2 separate regions of the Homo sapiens genome follow, and region 2 is reported to be linked to region 1. The links are microRNA targets in miRTarBase. Many come from high-throughput screens and were not tested one by one. Region 1 holds a microRNA gene; the other region holds the end of a gene's coding sequence.
Evidence for each region. The annotated mature microRNA hsa-miR-513a-5p reads UUCACAGGGAGGUGUCAU and lies in region 1 at 2,178-2,195, opposite strand. An mRNA with a match to its seed (bases 2 to 7 or 8) in the 3' UTR can be bound and repressed. Matches are read on the target gene's strand: a 7mer-m8 pairs with bases 2 to 8, a 7mer-A1 pairs with bases 2 to 7 and ends in A, and an 8mer does both.

Region 2: the mRNA of PIGO is a reported target of hsa-miR-513a-5p. The part of its 3' UTR that is shown has no 7-base or 8-base seed match.

The regions. Positions count from the first base shown.
Region 1 is chrX:147,211,361-147,215,740 of GRCh38, forward strand. MIR513A1 (microRNA 513a-1) reads right to left here and starts at 2,231; the gene lies at 2,103-2,231. All of the region lies in intron 1 of LOC105373347 (periphilin-1), which reads left to right.
Region 2 is chr9:35,085,673-35,089,672 of GRCh38, reverse strand. It overlaps PIGO (phosphatidylinositol glycan anchor biosynthesis class O), which reads left to right. Exons shown (of 11, transcript NM_032634.4): 10 at 223-293; 11 at 452-985. The coding sequence ends at 581. Among named protein-coding and RNA genes, the nearest start is that of FANCG, 7.7 kb to the right of the region's middle.

The sequences.
Region 1 (4,380 bases):
GATCATTCTTTGGCTCATGGACTTTACCTCCACCTCTATTGAATACTGTAGCATTTTCCAATGTTTCTCTTATTCTAACCACCTTCCTTCTACTTATAAGAACCCTTGTGATTATGTTGGACTCACCTAGATAATCTAGGATAATCCCAATCTCAAAATATTTAGTCATATCTGCAAATTTCCTTCTACCATAAAATGTGATGTTTTTGAGTTCAGGGGTTGCTCTGTAAACATCTTTTGGAGGGGGACTGTTATTCTGCATACCACAGAGATCCTATAATTTGTATTTAGAGTTTCACCTAAATATGTTATGTTTATATTATTTTATGTTTTAATTAGGTGGATTTAATCATTGTATAATATATACATATATCCAAACATCATGTTGTACACCTTAAATATATACAAAAGTTATGTCAGTTAAACCTTAATAAATTGGTAGAAACACGGATGAATGATACAAAAAAGTATTTCACTGAAAGAAAAACCACAAATAACAGTGAATAGAGTACTCTTTTGAGAAATCATAAAAGAGATATGATACTAACTAAATTCTCTTCTTTCGTTTTAGGATATGACTTAAAATTATATAAGTACACATGCATTCACTATAATACAGTTTTAGAAATTATATACTAAAAAGTGTTATCACTTTGGAAATTTCTATGTACATACAGCATTTCCAACTGACAGAATTTTTTTACTGTTCAGAATGTTCCCCCGCCCCCAATGAAAAAGATGCTATGTAATCTATTAGAGCAATTGTTTTAATATTGAAAAAGATACTTCAACTGATTGTTTTTTTACTTCCAGACATTAATGGTCTTAAACATATTCATCCATTCTGAACGTAACAAAACAAACTAAAATCCTGCCTGTAACCATATAGTAATTGTTTTTTATACTTTCTCCCTTTTGATGTATATGCTATAACCTCTATTTCCATTGGAATCAAATTTGTATTAATAACTTACTATTTATAACATTTTTAACACATTTCTGCAATATAAGTAGCTTATTTATAACCTACTTCTCAAAAATGCATACTAGTTTCATGCTGCAGATGGCCTCACACCATCCGGCACTTGTCTTACTCTTTTGCCCTCTCTCTCTTTTTTTGTGTGTTTGTGTGTGTGTGTATTTCCCTCTATCTCTCTCCATTAGGTTAAGAGTTAAGAAGTGTCAACACAAGAAAATGGGACCAGGCGTGGTGGCTCACGCCTGTGATCTCAGCCATTTGGGAGGCTTAGGTGGGTGGATCAGGAGGTCAGCAGTTCGAGACCAGCCTCATCAACATGGTGAAACCCCATCTCTACTAAAAATACAAAAAGTAGCCAGGTGTGTTGGGGCACACCTGTAATCCCAACTACTCGGGAGGCTGAGGAAGGAGAATCCCTTGAACCTGGGAGATAGATAGAGGTTGCAGTGAGCCCAGATCACACCGCTGCACTCCAGCCTGGGCGAAAGAGCAAGACTCTGTCACACACACACACACACAAAGAAAATGGGGAGAGAAGACTAGGAGATATCTCTTGAGTATCAATTCCATCATACCCTTCCATTGTTCATACATATTCTTAAAAAACGGGGAAAAAAGATAATGAAAAAGAGTGAAATATTCTTGGGTGGACTATGCTTAATCCTTCATAAATTGGTGACTTAAGGCTTTGAAAGGTATTTTAAAAGTCAATGAGAAAATGTTTTAGTCTTTGACAGAAAATGGACGCTGTGGATCAGCAATGAAGGGACCTGAGAGGCAGGAGAGTCTTTTGGGAGCGCTAAAGGAGAATCCTTGCAAATGATGACTAGTTGATAAGTGAAAAAAGTTTAGAGAATTTAGGAATCTGGAGTAAAGCATTCCAGCTGACGAAGAATGGCTGTGGCCTCTATCCAATGTATTTCCTATTTGAGCCAAGCCTCATTTGGCAAAAATAAATTCTTAAGGAACCTAAGTGCATGCGTTTTCTCAGGAGTCCACAATTCCTATGTACAGTCGTCTAGAAGGCACAAAAAGTTCCTTGAAGTGTAGCCCAGCACTGAGGAGTGGGTGCACAGGATGCAAAACAGGCATCACCATGCTCGCAGCTACACCCCCATCCTCAGGGACACCACATATGCAGTGCATGCTGTACATTACCCTTCTCAGAAAGGTGAAATTTATATTTTAGTTCACATAAATGACACCTCCCTGTGAAAGGCACTGTACGCTGAATGGCTGAATGTGGCATCCCAGACCAAATGCTCCCTTTTCATGCTGTTTTTATTCAAGTCCCTATAGGTGTATGCCTTCGCATGGCCACCAAGATTTATGCCAAGGGACAATGCAACTTGTAACCCCCAGCACTCCCCTTTTCATCCTGCCCCGAGTGAGATTTTGACATGCAGATTTTTGTTTTGTTTTTGTTTTCAGATGAAGTCTGGCTCTGTCACCCAGTCTGGCATGCATTGGCGTGATCTCAGCTCACTGCAACCTCCGCTTCCTGGGTTCAAGCACTTCTCCTGCCTCAGCCTCCCGAGTAGCTTAGGTTAAAGGCACACACCACCTCGAATGGCTAATTAACACGCAGATTTTTAGACTGATCAAGAATAGAGCTTTTCACTTCATCTCTTCCCCAAAGGCGAGTAATCCTTGTCTGAATTATCCCATTAGTTTTCACGTTAATTTGCTTGTCTCATTAAAAATCCTCAAAATCAGGCCAGGCACAGTGGCTCATGCCTGTTATCCCAGCACTTTGGTAGGCCAAGGCTGGTAGATCATCTGAGGTCAGGAGTTTGAGACCAGCCTGGACAACGTGGTGAAACTCCATCTCAACTACAAATACAAAAAATCAGCCGGGTGTGGTGGTGGGTGACTGTAACCCCAGCTAATCTGGATGCTGAGGCAGGAGAATCATTTGAACCCAGGAGACAGAGGTTGCAGTGAGCCGAGGTTGTGCCGTTGTGCTCCAGCCTGGGCAACAAAAGTGAAAATCCATCTAAAAAAAAAAAAAAAAAATCTTCAGAGTCGGCCGGGCATGGTGGCTCATGCCTGTAATCCCAGTACTTTGGGTGGTCCAGGTGTGCATATCACTTAAGGCCAGGAGTTTGAGACCACCCTGGCCAACATGGTCAAACACCATCTCTACTAATAATACAAACTTAGCGGGGTGTGGTGGCTCGCGCCTGTAATCACAGCTACTCAGGAGGATCACTTGAACCTGGGAGGCAGAGGTTGCAGTGAGCGGAGATAGTGCCAATATACTCCAGCCCGGGTTACAGAGTGAGACCCTGTCTCAAAAAAAAAACAACAAACAAACAAAAAAACCCCAAAAACTTTTAAAATTACAGTTAAGTAGGCAGGGCCAACCACTCACCAAAGCTCTCTATGGTCCTAAAACTCCAGCTGTGCTGCACAGACCCTAATTCCAATGGAAAAACCACAGAATACAACCACCTGGATCCAAACTACTAGAGAAGAGTCAGACAGTACCAGGTTGGAGAGAGCAGAAATTTAATTTCTTCTTCAGGCTATGCAGTGGGAAGAACCCATAGAAATTAATACGAGAGACAGACAAGACAGATAATGGGCTGGAAGACAAGAAATGCTATTTAATTTTTCTTAGTTCCATGGTTCTTTATAGTACATTTATTTGGGCTCAGTCTCTCTCTCTCGCTGTGTGATTAACAATTAATAGTGCTAGGATTTTTTAGCTTTAATATTTACTGTTTGCATTAATATATTTTCCATCCTTTTACCCAACTTTCACGTAGGTCTTCATATTTAAAATGGTTTCGTTTTAGAAAGTGTACAGCTGTTTCTTATTTTTACATAATTTGACAGTGTCTCTCTTAATTGAAGCATTTATATCATTTATTATAATTATTTATGTACATGCGTTTAAATCTACTGGCTTTCTAGTTGTTTTCTGTACTTCATCCTTTTGTAATTCCTAATTTTCCTGTTTTTCTGCCTGATGGTAGATTTAGTATTTTTATCATTCAGTTATATTTTCTGCACTCTTGGCTTATTAGTTGGTCACTTTAAAAGAATAGCGGTTGCTCTGGAGTTTTCAGTGTTCATATTTAATTCATCACAGTCTATCTATCTTCAAAGAATATTTTACTAGTTTATGAACCCTGAACATTTGAGACAGGTCTCAGTTAATTTCAGAAGTTAATTTTTCCAAGGTTGAGGATGCACACCCATTACCCAGCCTCAGGAGGTCCTGAGGGCGTGTGCCCAAGGTGGTCAGAGCACAGTTTGGTTTTAAATATTTTAGGGAGACATGAGACATCAGTCAAAATATGTAAAATGAATGTTGGTTAGGTCCGGTCCAAAAAGGTGGGACAATTCAAAGTAGGGAGGAGGCTTCCAGGTCACAGGTAGATGAGAGAGAAATG
Region 2 (4,000 bases), not on the chromosome of region 1:
GCAGATGGATACTGACTTGCCCAAAGTCACATAGTGAGTCAGTGCTTGGGGCAGGGCAGGAAGTAGGTCTCCTAACTCCTAGCCCAGGACATGCAATATTTTTTCCACTGACATGCACTATTCTCCTGCTTCCATTTTTTACAGGGGCCTATAGAAACTCTCCTTTTGCTCCGCTTCCTCCTCTCCTTCACAAGTAACGTGGCCCCTCCTCTCCTCCTCTAGATTCTGGCCTGTGCCTTGGCAGCCTCCATCCTTCGCAGGCATCTCATGGTCTGGAAAGTGTTTGCCCCTAAGTGAGTAGATTTGCTTGAGAAGTAGAGGTGGTGGGGAGGGAGAAACTTGGAACAAAGTATGAAGATCCTAAACATCCAGGATGGCCAAGGTTTTGCCTCTACAGGGAAAAGGCAGTAGACCTACTCTGTTGCCTGAGATTCTCCGCCTTTCTTTGCAGGTTCATATTTGAGGCTGTGGGCTTCATTGTGAGCAGCGTGGGACTTCTCCTGGGCATAGCTTTGGTGATGAGAGTGGATGGTGCTGTGAGCTCCTGGTTCAGGCAGCTATTTCTGGCCCAGCAGAGGTAGCCTAGTCTGTGATTACTGGCACTTGGCTACAGAGAGTGCTTGAGAACAGTGTAGCCTGGCCTGTACAGGTACTGGATGATCTGCAAGACAGGCTCAGCCATACTCTTACTATCATGCAGCCAGGGGCCGCTGACATCTAGGACTTCATTATTCTATAATTCAGGACCACAGTGGAGTATGATCCCTAACTCCTGATTTGGATGCATCTGAGGGACAAGGGGGGCGGTCTCCGAAGTGGAATAAAATAGGCCGGGCGTGGTGACTTGCACCTATAATCCCAGCACTTTGGGAGGCAGAGGTGGGAGGATTGCTTGGTCCCAGGAGTTCAAGACCAGCCTGTGGAACATAACAAGACCCCGTCTCTACTATTTAAAAAAAAGTGTAATAAAATGATAATATAATTATGTGTGTCTGAGATGTGGGGGAGCCCCACTGTTCTATAGGGGTTGTGAGGAGGATCAGTCTCTCCTGCCACCAGGCACAGATGAGATCAGTCATCTTAGGAAAGCCTGGCTGCACCTGAGAACCTTTATGAAGTGGTTGGAGTTGTCTGAATTCACTGCCTCCACCTCTTCCCAAATCAATCCTATTATCCCACCGCTATTTTCCTTTGCCATGCAACACATTTTGTTAAGTTCCTGTTCTTTGTCTGATAAAGAGAGAAGACTGAGAAGACAAGCCCAGGCATCATGCAGCACCGACTTTAACTGTCTGAAGCCCCAAATAGTGCTATGCCCCCGCTCCACTGGGCCTTTTCACTATAGAACACCCTTTGCCCTTCCCTTCTGTGGAAGCCTCCCTTGTTTCCCAACCTGTGCCACTCTTTATCAGATCTACATGCCCATCTTATGTAGCATTCCACCTTGTCCCATTCATTATTCCTGACTTGAAGCCAAAATTGTGTGAATCCACTGGTTCTTTTCTCATGTGTATGTTTTGTGCCCTCTGTTCACCCCAGCACTCCTGTCATGTTTGAAATGCTGGCATGAAATCCTCCTAGAGATGTCCATCAAAAGAGTTGGGAAGAGGCCCTGGAGAGAAGCATCAGGACTGGGATTTGAGGTTTGACAGTACCTAGAACAAGAGGAGCTGATACCACTGAAAAACAGAACAGATGTTAAAACCATGGGATAGCACCTACTTTTAGCTGGCATAAAGTAGAGAAGCTGAGTAGTAGTGGTTGTGAAGTATAAACGTTCACTGCTGTGGTAGGTAGCTAAGGGAAGAATTGAAATTATTTTTATTGTTACTATCATTTTAAAGACATATTTTTGCTCTATTGTCCAGGCTGGAGGGCAGTGGTGCAATCATAGCTCCCTGTAGTTTCAAACTCCTGGGCTCAAGTGATCCATCTCAGCCTCCTCAGTATCTGGGACCATGCCTGGCTAATTTTTAAATTTCTGTACAGACAGAGTCTTGCTACATTGCCCAGGCTGTTCGTGAACTCCTGGCCTCAAGCGATCCTTCCACCTTGGCCTCTCAAAGCACTAGGATTACAGGTGTGAGCCACAGCACCTGGCTAAGTTCAGATTATTAATGGCCAGTGGTCCCTAGTGTTACAGATGCCAAATAGTAAGATGATGAAAAGTATGGTTCAGCTGGGTGTGGTGCCTCATGCCTGTAATCTCAGCACTTTGGGGAGCCAAGGCGGGTGGATCACCTGAGGTCAGGAGTTTGAGACCAGCCTGGCCAACATGGCAAAACCCCATCTCTACTAAAAATACAAAAATTAGCCAGGTGTGGTGGTGTGCACCTGTAATTCCGGCTACTCAGGAGGCTGAGGCAGGAGAATCGCTTGAACCTGGGAGGCAGAGGTTACAGTGAGCCAAGATCACGCTACTGCACTCCAGCCTGGGAGACAGAGCCAGACTCTCTCTCAAAAAAAAAAAAAAAAAAAAAGGGATAGGTTGTTAACCATGGTAGAAAGAGGTTTAATAATGCAAGGGGGTGAAGTTGGCCCCAGCTGGCCTGTAAGATGAATTAGAAAAACGCTTCTCCCCAAGTCTGGTGGACACAACTCCCAAGCATAGTTCGGTGAGCAAATGGTGTCTTTTTGAGAAAGGGGAAAAAAACCAAAACAAAAACCTTTCCTCCATCCCTAGCACCCATGGAAGGATTTTAGGCCCTAGTTCCTCCACTTCTCAGCCAGGTACCCTGCACTTTTTGCAGTAGCCTCCTTGCCTGGAGCCTAAGGCTAATTTGCTGATCTGCCAACCACTGTCTATTCTTTCTCCTGGTGTATCTATAAGATTCTATTAGATAAAGACATTAGTACATTGATTTACGCTATTAAAAATTATTTCTAGCCAGGCACTGTGGCATGTCCCTATAGTCCCAGCTACTTGGGAGGCAGAGGTGGGAGGATCACTTGAGGATAGCAAGACTCCGTCTCTACAAAAATAAAAAAATTAGCCAGGCATGGTCCCAGCTATGTAGAGGCTGAGGTGGATCACTTGAGCCCAGGAGTTAGAGGCTGTAGTGCACAATGAATGCACCTGTGAATAGCCACTGCACTCCAGCCTGGGCAACATAGATCCTCTCTCTTTTAAAAAGAAAAATTATCTTATCCCTCCCTTTTCCTTGAAATCAGAGTCCATTCCACACTAACTCAATGATTCTTTTTTTTTTTCCTTTAATTTTTTGTAGAGGTGGGGGTCTTGCTGTCTTGCCTAGGCTGGTCTTGAACTCCTGGCCTCAAGCCATCCTCCTGCCTCGACCTCCTCAAGTGTTGGGATTGCAGGTGTGAGCCATTGCACCCAGCCCTGATTCTTTTTTAAAAAAGCTTTATTGAAATGCAATTTACCATAAAATTTACCCATGTAAGGTGTAAGATTTAATGGTTTTTGTGTATTTACAGAATTGTACAACCATCACCAGAATCAATTTTAGAACATTTTCACCAACCCCAAAAGAAAATCTACTGTTTAGATATCACCCTCCAATCCTCCCCAACCCCTGGCTAGCACTAATCTGCTGTTTCTCTATATATTTGCCCATTTTGGATATTTCACAGAAATGGGATCATAATAATATGTGGTCTTTTGTGACTGGCATCTTCCACTTAGTATAATGTTTTCCGGTTTCATCTATATAGCAGCACACAGCAGTACTTCATTCTTTTTCTTTTTTAAAATTGAAGTAAAATTCATATAAAATTCACCATTTTAAAGTGTATAATTTAGTGGCCGTTAGTACATTCACAACGTTGTACAATTATCATCATTATCAATTCCAGAATGTTTTCATTACCCCAAAAAGAAACCCTGTACCCTTAAGCAGTCATTCCTTCTCTTCTCCCCCTTAACTCCTGGTACCACTAATTTGTTTTCTGTCTCTATAGATTTGCCTGTTCTGGACATTTCATATAAATGGGCTCATACAGTAGTGCCTTTTTCTGTCTTATCTTCCTTTACTCAGCC